3 separate regions of the Homo sapiens genome follow, and regions 1 and 2 are each reported to be linked to region 3. The links are microRNA targets in miRTarBase. Many come from high-throughput screens and were not tested one by one. Region 3 holds a microRNA gene; each other region holds the end of a gene's coding sequence.
The links. Region 3 holds the annotated microRNA hsa-miR-2276-3p (UCUGCAAGUGUCAGAGGCGAGG, at 2,386-2,407, opposite strand). A microRNA usually pairs through its seed, bases 2 to 8, with sites in the 3' UTR of a target mRNA and lowers its output. Matches are read on the target gene's strand: a 7mer-m8 pairs with bases 2 to 8, a 7mer-A1 pairs with bases 2 to 7 and ends in A, and an 8mer does both.

Region 1: the mRNA of SPTLC3 is a reported target of hsa-miR-2276-3p. Seed matches in the 3' UTR shown: 7mer-A1 at 1,798-1,804.
Region 2: the mRNA of ADRM1 is a reported target of hsa-miR-2276-3p. Seed matches in the 3' UTR shown: 7mer-m8 at 564-570.

What each region holds. Positions count from the first base shown.
Region 1 is chr20:13,164,362-13,167,361 of GRCh38, forward strand. SPTLC3 (serine palmitoyltransferase long chain base subunit 3) reads left to right here. Exons shown (of 12, transcript NM_018327.4): 12 at 393-3,000. The coding sequence ends at 506. It also overlaps a transcript of TASP1 not described here. Among named protein-coding and RNA genes, the nearest start is that of ISM1, 55 kb to the right of the region's middle.
Region 2 is chr20:62,308,229-62,311,556 of GRCh38, forward strand. It overlaps ADRM1 (ADRM1 26S proteasome ubiquitin receptor), which reads left to right. Exons shown (of 10, transcript NM_007002.4): 9 at 140-242; 10 at 427-634. The coding sequence ends at 533. It overlaps LAMA5 (laminin subunit alpha 5), which reads right to left. Exons shown (of 80, transcript NM_005560.6): 72 at 3,173-3,308; 73 at 2,934-3,079; 74 at 2,674-2,866; 75 at 2,437-2,601; 76 at 2,191-2,344; 77 at 1,950-2,083; 78 at 1,760-1,853; 79 at 1,488-1,607; 80 at 837-1,247. The coding sequence ends at 1,108. Among named protein-coding and RNA genes, the nearest start is that of ADRM1, 6.9 kb to the left of the region's middle.
Region 3 is chr13:24,161,530-24,164,875 of GRCh38, reverse strand. It overlaps MIR2276 (microRNA 2276), which reads right to left and starts at 2,460; the gene lies at 2,372-2,460. All of the region lies in intron 1 of SPATA13 (spermatogenesis associated 13), which reads right to left.

The sequences.
Region 1 (3,000 bases), not on the chromosome of region 3:
TTGCTGTGTCATGAAGATATAACTTCAAATGCATTCTGCAACCTTATCTTTTTCTTCCACAAGACTACATATAAGTCACTACATTTTAAAATAAAACCTTTTAAGGGTAAGCATGGGTCACATGTTTTTATTCTTCTCTTCACACTCTCAAAATAAAATAAACATTCATAGTATGGAGTTAGACCACTAAATAAAATTAATTAGCATCTAACATTCCTCTAGGGTCTTAAACCACAACCTAATGGTACGGATCTTGCTTCTTTTCTTTAAAATCAAAGAAGCTAGCAAACTAAGACTGTGTGTCTTTGTGAGGCTTGCTATTAATCTGGGCTCTGCAAAGCAGGGCTACTTAGGTGTTCAATGATAGCTATTGGAAAGCAATCTCATTGCAGGTTTTAGAAGCTCTTGATGAAATGGGTGATCTCTTGCAACTGAAATATTCCCGGCACAAGAAGTCAGCACGTCCTGAGCTCTATGATGAGACGAGCTTTGAACTCGAAGATTAAGTTTCCTGGTCCTGAATGACACATAAAGACTTTGCGAGAAAGACCTCCCTCCTTGCCTCACAAGGAATATAAATGGATTTCTCCCCCTTCCTCAGGACAATTTTGGTTCCCAGACCAGCTTGATTGAACTGAGGGAGACGTTGTTGTTTTTAATGTCTCCAGCTTGGACTGCAGAGACAAAAACATGATTCCAGATTTAAGTCTCTCTTCTTCCAAGTATTCTACTAGAAATACACACACACACACACACACACTTCTGAGAATATTTTTAATGGCAATAAGCCTGTGTTTTAGCTGCTACTGTGCAGACCCTTTCAGGGATTCCAACCAAATGCAAATGAGAGAATTTAAAATTTTTATTCAGTAAGTTCACTATGTGTTTACTTATTCCATCTGCAGATGTAAGTGAGTGTGGTGGACAGTAGCCACCTTCCTTGTTCCACTCATAAAAGCATCAGCTAGATCTCATCTGTATCATGGGAAGTTCCAGGCAGGAGGGTAAAGAAATGTTGTTTCTACCATTTGTCACATTTGGACGTTTTTCACAGACAAGTGTCAAAAGACATAGTTAATGTTTCGAGGGGGAAAGCAGAACTGATCAACTGCGACTAGAGACGTCTTTGAAGGAAATTTTCCTTTTCCTCTTGCTGGTCTCCTACAGTTTTACAGCTGAGCTTTTGAGGTTTGGAAAATTCAAGATGTTTGTTTCATAAGAAAAGGGGCAGAAAGCAAGCACAAGACACTTTTAGGTCTAGACTAAAATGGTAGTTACAACAATTTGAACCTTGTTGGTGCAGTGCACGGTGAATGCTTACCCTGCACAGCCTCTATTACCTTAAGGAATTAGTTGTCATTTTCCTATTGAATTTTGAGTAAATGGTGAAATTCAGTGTCCTTTAGAATCGACTCCCAAGACTATATTTGAAGAATGCATTGATTCAAGAAGGACATTTAAAAGCAAATTCTGACTTTTTCAAGACCAACACACTTGTTTAGGCCTATTAAATTGTACTATCACTTGTTACATGCCCTCTGAATTGGGAGAAAGTGGGCTTGCACACTTTGAGGTAACTAACTGTAATTTACTTGTGTTCTCTCTTTCTTGCTCTCCTTCTCAACATGAACACAAACCTCTATGGAAAAGTAGCCTCTTGTTAATCTGATCTAGTTTGTATGGAAAAAGCCCATGGAGAACCTTATCTTTAACAAGCTCCCAGAGGGTGCCCAGATTTGGAAATTCTAGAGAGCAGTGGTGACCTTTTAGCAAAGCTTCTGTAACAGTTCGAATGAGTTGCAGAACATTCCACTCCATCAAATGACACTGTAAACAAATCACTTCAAGAGAGGCTTGGTTTTGTGTGGCACAGATGGACCCAAGCTTTCATGCTGTGCACTGAGATAGAAACTCCACCCGCAGCGCCTGCGATGGATGGAGCAGTGTGCCCTGATGCTCAAAGCGTATTAAAGGAAAAAAAGTGATCAGCATGGAAAGTTTTTATGGGGAAATTATAACTCCAAGTGGGTGCATTGGTTTAAAAATGGATCACAATGATAGAGTTCTTCATGAATGTTTACAAGTTGTAAGGAATACCGTTAGTGAAAGAGGAAAAGAAGTGGGTTCTGAAAATGCAGTTTCCCATCCAATGATTTTGATAACAAAATTCCAACTTTTCTCAATGAAACTGATGCAGTATTATTTGTGCAAATAAAATGTGTCATAAATATGCAAAGAAAGGGAGACATACTGTTCTTATCTTGAATATGTGCATTTAAATGAATTGTCCAAAATGCATAAATGCCTTGCGTTCTATAAAGGAAACAGGAGGTCAAAAAGACAGCGAGATATCTAGTCCTTCCACAAGGTATGGAAAGCAATAAACATCTTCCTTTCTTTCTGGATCTGTCTGTGATGTTTACACACACCTTCACATCTACACTTCAAGTTTTAAGCCCCTAGACATGTGTCTTCATGAGCAGGAATGTCCACTATTATTACTTTCATGGAGGATATTGGGTCTAATTCATTGTGGGAAACTACTTACCTACCCAGCATGGAAGGCAGGGAGGAAGTTAGTCTCTTTTCATCAAGATTCAAGAGTACAGGGGCAATTTATTACACTGCAATGTACAAAACAAAAGGACCTGTTTCTGTTAGAGAGTCCATGTTGAATATACAGGTATGAGAACAACTGTTGATATACAGGTATAATCCAAGTAGAATGCTTCCACAGTGCATTAGAAGGTGCCCAAGCTCCACAGGGCCAATAATATTAGAGTATATGTCATATAGAATAAGGTTAATTAGGAGGGTGATTGTGAATAATGAGATTTTTAATTTTTTTAAGAAAAAGCTCTCAAATGCTAGGCTAATAAGTTCATGATTTTAATTCATGATTTTAATTCATGATTAAAATTATTTGATTATTGAGTCTTGATAATTATATCATCAACCATTACCCTCTACATCACCGCCCCGACCTTAGCTCTAATTATA
Region 2 (3,328 bases), not on the chromosome of region 3:
GGGGGGAGGAGGAGGCCCTGCCCCACCTTCACCATGGCCAGTGCTTCATGTGCCTGACCCGCAGAGCTGGCAGCTGAGCAGTGTGGCTCTGGGGTGCAGCCCGGGTTGGAGCTCAGCCCTCGCCTGGCTCTTCTTGCAGGCCCTGGGCATGTTCAGCGCAGCCTTGGCCTCGGGGCAGCTGGGCCCCCTCATGTGCCAGTTCGGTCTGCCTGCAGAGGCTGTGGAGGCCGCCAACAAGGGCGGTAAGTGGCTGCGCCTGCACCTCCAGGCCAGAGCCAGGGGCAGGGTCCATTCCTGTCCCCCTGGATCTGCAGAAGTGGGGCTGAGGGGGTAAAGGTCACAGCCCTTCTGCCCTTGATCCCATCGCTTTGATCCCCAGTTCTGGGCAAGGGTTAGACACCACCTTGTGTCTTTAACGTGTTCTAGATGTGGAAGCGTTTGCCAAAGCCATGCAGAACAACGCCAAGCCCGAGCAGAAAGAGGGCGACACGAAGGACAAGAAGGACGAAGAGGAGGACATGAGCCTGGACTGAGCCACGCGCCGTCCTCCGAGGAACTGGGCGCTTGCAGTGCGTTGCACACCCTCACCTCCCACCCACTGATTATTAATAAAGTCTTTTCTTTTACCTGCCAATGCTTAGTTTCTTTGCCCAAAGGGAGTTTCGGCTGGACAGGTGCTAGCGTGGGGAGCTGCTGTAGGGTCCCAGAGACAGTTAGTTATTTGACCTAACAACGGAAAACGGTCACCCCAGGAAGAGTTTGGTGCCTCTGTCCAGGCCGGTTCCAGATCTGTCTTGAGACTCACTCTCTCCGTATTTAAGTCAACATTCATTCGGTTACACAGAAGTTACTTTTTAATTTTTAAGGAGGAACCAGTGATGATTGGTGACAAATCTCTCACAATTAAAAATGGGTGGAAGGGCCAAATATAAAAACATTTTGCAGTATTTTATTCTTTCGTTTAAGAAGCTATAACTTAAACCATCTTCAGAAACAAGATCTGTCACCCGTAGAGCTTAGAGTCCAAATAGACACCTATGAGGCGAGCACAAGGGGCGGTGTGAGGCAGCTGCAGGGGCCTGACCAGGGGCCGGGGTTGGCTGTGTCCTAGGCGGCTGGGCAGCCACTGGCCCCCACTGCCCCGTGGACCTCCACAGAGCGAGTCATGGCGACGGGGGACCGGTTCACCGCCAGCCTCCTCATGCAGCCGCAGTAGGCGGGGGGCCAGGGCTGCACGGCCATGGGCTCTGGGGGCACAGGGAAGATGGAAGAAGGCTGGTTGGTGGGCAGCTAGAGACCCACAGGCCCTTCCCAAACGTCAGTGCCCCACCCAGCCCCTGTCTCATTCCACATCATAGGAGGGTGGTAGGGGGGTGGGAGGAGGGTGGGAGGGGGCAGGGGGTGGAGGGGTGGGGGGAGGGTGGTAGGTTACGCAGCACCTAGTCCTGAGGGGCAGCTCCCCCACCCTTGATCAAGGCCGCACTCACCAGGCAGGCCCCCGAGGTACAGAGGGGCTGGGGCACCAGCTGCAGCCGCCAGCAAGGGGCCCACGGTGTGGTTGCTCTGCGCGTCCACCTCCAGCCGGAGCACATTCCCGCTTTTCATCACTGGGAGAAAGGGGGACTCCTGAGGCCAGGTGGTCCTCAGCCCAGCCTCTCTCCAGCCCCAAAAGAAGCCACCCCACCCAGAGTCCCGCCTGGCTCCCGCTCTGCAGAAGGGTGGGGGTGGCAGAGTGCCCTGGCCACAGGAGGGGCCTCACCCGCTAGCCGGTGCCACTGGCCATCACACAGCACTGAGGGGCGGGTCACTGACGTGGAGAACTCCCCTGCTCCGTCATCCGCCCGCAGCAGGACCTGGCGGGGTAGGAAGGGAGGGTCAGGCTATGCCCCCGAGGTCACCAGAATGGGGAGGCAAACCCTGCCCTGGCACGCCACCTCTGCCAGGCTTACTTGCTTCTCGGTCACCTGCAACTGCAAGTAGGGGGGCGTCCGGGCCTGGCCCAAGTGGAAGATCAGTCCGGTGACTGCCAGGGGCCGCACCTCCAGTTCCAGGCCCACATCAGGCAGTGTAGCTCCTGGGAGGTCTGCGGGGAGGGGTTGTGATGGAGAAGAAAGGGGGGGCCCCTCCCCAGAACCTCCTGGAGCCCCCTGCCCTGCCCTGCTGAGGCCTGGGATGCCAGCACCCACAGACCTAAAGTGATAACTCCCCCGCTGCCTGGGAAGAACAGGCCCGCCTCCAGGGGGCCCAAGATGCAGGGTGTGACCCCTGCCATCCGTGTGGGGGCCCCCAGGGGCCTCCCGTGCAGCCTCAGTCTCTTCACACAGCCGCTGAACCCGACGGTCACCTATAGGAGCAGACCGGGCAGGGATCAGGGCCCAGGGCAGCTGAAAGGGAACAGTGGGTGGGGAGTGGGGGCTGGGGCAAGATGGTTCTCACCGGAAGTTTGGAGCTGTGGCTGCTGGCCGGGAGGCCGCCCACAAAGAGGGTGTGGGGCTGGGGGTGCTCTGCCCCCTGGTGCTGCCGGTGCGGCCCCTCCTGGCTCCAGGCCCGGGCCCCGTCCGTCACCAGCAGGATCCGGTTCTTCTCCCAGCGCACGGAGACCTGGGGGCAGGAGATGGGTCAGGGTAGGGCTGCCAGGCCCTGCCCACCACCTTCCTTCTTCTCGGCCCTCACCTTGTGCCAGCGGCCAGGCCGGGAGCGCTGGCGGCTCTGGGCGCGGAGCCGAGTCCCGAGGCCTTCCATCTGTGCAACGAAGTGGCCATTGCTCAGGAAGAGCGCCAGGGAGGGGCTGCCGGGCCTCAGACGGGCAGTGAAGAGGAGGAGGCCTCGGGAGCTTCGCGGGAGGACGTGCATGGAGAGACTGGGCCTGGAAGCGGAGCTGGCGTCAGCCTGCGCGGCCCCTCTCAGCCCACCCCAGCCGGGCCTGGCCTTACCAGTTCCTATGTCGGGCCAGGATGCCCACAAACTCCAGGTGACTGGACAGGGAACCCCCAAACTGGTAGGAGTCTCGGGTGGTCCTGAGGTGTGGGGGCAGCATGCAGGCAGGATGCCGGGCGGGCTGACGGCTGCGGCGGGAGGCCTGGGGGCGTGGATGGTGAATGCAGGGGCCGCCCACACAGGGGCCACCCTTCCAGCCACCCCAGCTCTGCCTGCTCACCCCTGGGGTGCCCACCTTCCGGGCGGTGGCCTGCAGTCCTCTAGGCCCCAGGCCCGGGGTCTGGGCTTGCAGGGCGGGTGCACAGCCCGTGCTCACATTGACGCTGCCCAGGTTCTGCTGCAGATCAAATACGCGCTGTGGGCCCAGGAGCCTGTGCAGGGCGGGCAGGCG
Region 3 (3,346 bases):
GCTCTTGTCCCCTGGTCCCCTGGTCTCTCCTCTCCAGCTTCACCTTCAGCTCAGCACACAGGAGCTATCGATGTTGTGAAAGGTTCTGTGGTGCCGTTTCTGCCTCAGGGAGTTACAGGTTAGAGGGAAGACAGACACACCGAGGGATGCAGGTGGATCTCCTAAGCCAGGCAGCCCGGGGTCCAGTCTCAGTCTTGCCACTTACTATGGGGCTCTGGCCACGACAGCTTCCCTGAACCTCCATCTCATTTAGGGAGCAATGAAACTTGACTTGCTCCTCAGTTATAACCATCCTCACCTAAACCACAGAACACAGAGGATACCTCACGCAAATGCTTCCTCCCTTCTCCCCAGGATGGTACCTGATCACCCATCTCATCCTAGGAGGGAGTGATGAAGCCATCACATAGGATGCCTGCCTCAGGGCATCAGGGTTTCATTCTGTCAAGACAGGCTGGTATGGAGGAGGTGAGCATCACAATTCAACAATACCCTGCAGGTTCCCTGGGGAGCCAAAAGAGGCATTAAACATGGAGGGAGCAGAGGCAGGAGCAAGGGGGCTCAGTGGGAGTCCAGAGAAGGATGTGGGTACAGCAGAGGCCAACAGAAAAACAGCAACCTACTCTATGCTCCCCCTTTACTGCTCTTTCATTTGTGATGCAAAGATGAGGAAAATCAGGTAAGCACTTTGTACCAATGCATTTCTCTCCACAAATGTAAAATACAATTAAACATTCCAGGTACTGATTTTCAAATTGCCATGTATTATATAGTTTCCCTCAAGAAAACCATGTACATTTGGTGTTCATTCCTGGTGTTTTAGAAATAACAATGATAGTTCTTTCTAAAACATTTGAATTTATACCACTGTGATGTTATGATCCCATTTATGCTATTACATGTCTCATAGGCAAACATTTCTTAAATGTTTAGTTTTCAGACAAAAAAGAAAGGAAAGCACTGATGAGTTCCCCTTCTAAGTGAAACCTTCCAATGCCTCTTAGCTCAAGGGAAAGGAAGGGGAAAGAAACTTTGTTGCTTCCAGCAGCAAACAGAGAGGTCAACCTACCAAGCTATAGGGCCAGGCATTGAGCCCTGAACCAGAGAAGCCTTAGAGCCAACTTTGTCCTGCTGCTTTCCCTTGAATATGCCATTTTATTTCCCTGGACCACGGTTTCCTCATCTGTAGAATATAAAGTCCCTTTCAGCTATCAAGGTGCATGCTCTGCTTCAGTATCTGTAAAGTAGAAATACTACTTGCCTCCAACTCTTAGGAAGATAAAGACTAAAAAAGAAATGTTTGGACAAGGCTTTAAGATTACATAATGAAATGGATATAAATAAGACTCATACAGTCACACAGCTAACAGAGACCATAAAGATCTGTCCAGCTAAAGTGAAACGGAACTCTCAATGCACGGGAGGAGACAGCTGGCAGTAGTCTTCTTTTTTAATTTAACTTAATTTTTTTAGAGACAGAGTCTCTCGTTCTGTCACCCAGGCTGCAGTGTAGTGGCAAAATCATAGCTCACTGCAGTCTCAACCTCCCAGGCTCAAGAGATCCTCTCACCTCAGCCTCCTGAGCACCTTGGACTACAGGTGAGTGCGCCATCACAACCAGCTGATTTCTTATTTTTATTTTTTAGAGATGGGGTCTTGCTATGCTGCCTAAGCTGGTCTTGAACTCCTGGGCTCAAGCAATCCTCCTACCTCGGCCTCCCAAAGTGCTGGGATTACAGGCATGAGCCACTGTGCCCAGCCAGGTCATTTTTATGCCACTTTCTTCAGGGCTTCCTGTGGCTAAGAGGGAAAGTAGACTGATAGCATGGATGAGGTGACAGCCCAGGCACTGGCCCCAGGCTTTCTGAGGGACAGCCGGCATTAGGTTTTTCTCCATGCACTGTCCTACAGGTATAGAATTCATGTCCTCCACTGGTGTACATTGCAGACTAAATAAAACATGTCATATAACAACCTCCTTTCCAAAGCTAAACTCCAGGCATGCCTGAGTTCAAGAGGTCACCCAGCAGGGAAGCTCCACTGTCTGGTGAGAAGAGGGCCTCCACTGCTAGGCAGTGGCAAGAAGCCATGCCGGTTACCTCCTCTGAGCCTTCCTTTTCTCATCTGTCAAATGGGGACAGTAGTAGATCCTACATTATAGGGATGTGTGGAGGATTTTAAATGAGTACTGATGCACGTTAAGCCCTCAGAACAGTGCTTGGCACACACCCAGAGTTTGGTAGATGCTACCTAACATCAATATTGACATTAATTCTAGAACTATGTAGAGGATACGACTTCAATAAGAAAACAATCAGTCAGAAGCAGTGGCAGAAGGGAGGGTCCTGAAATCCAGAGTCCTCCTGCAGAGATGCAGCTGCCACTCCTCGCCTCTGACACTTGCAGACATTCGGAGAGAAAGCCGTCTGCAAGGTGACAGAGGGCGGACTGGAAGAACACAAGGAACCCAGGGATGCTGATGGAGCATGGAAAACCGCAGCAGAAGGCACTGAGGCAAGGTGTGCCCTCCAGGCGGGGCAGGCTGTGGCTGGGCAGAGCGCCTGCCAGGGAGAAGTAGGGCAAAGGGAAGAAAGCACCTGTGGGAGAAACATGGGGAAACAAGGAAGAAACCTGCATATGCACGGGAGCACAAATAAGGAAGGAGATGGGAGAACTGGGTGGAGGCAGATGGCAAACGTGGGGGCCAAGGGAGGTAGATGAGAATTAGGATATGGGATAATAAGACAAAGCCACATGAAACTCTAAAGTGCGGGAGGAGGGCAGAGAACAGGGAGGGTGCATGACAGGCACCCCGAGAATAATGCAGTGAGGAAGTTTGCAAGACGGGGGAGGGGGACATTAGGAAAAAAGGAGAATTTGTTGGGAAAGGTGGAAAAAGAAAAGGAGTGAGATTTCTCCGCCTGTTAGCAAGGGGAATAAAGGAGAGCAAATCGCTGGGTGACCAGGAAAGGTTCACAGAGAAGAAAACACGAGGCAGCAAAAACCGAAGGTGGGGACAGAGAAAATGCTGGCAGGGGGAGGTGCATAATATAAGGCTATGGGAAGCCATGGGAACAAGAGCTGAATAAATTCACAGTATTATTCTATTTATCCACATCCCTATGCAATGCTGGGAAGCAAATGACCCACAGGGTTTTGTTTGCTTGCTTTGGTTTGGTTTTCCTGCACTTGGAGGGAGGGGAAATTTGCTCAAGCTCTGTAACCTTGCAGTCAGATGGGTGGCCCAGCCCAAGTCACCCGAGCTCCCCCTGACGCTGGCAGCAGCGCGGGCTTCTACCTGCCTGGGGCTGGAGTACCAATTCCCCCACCTCCTGCACAGAATGGG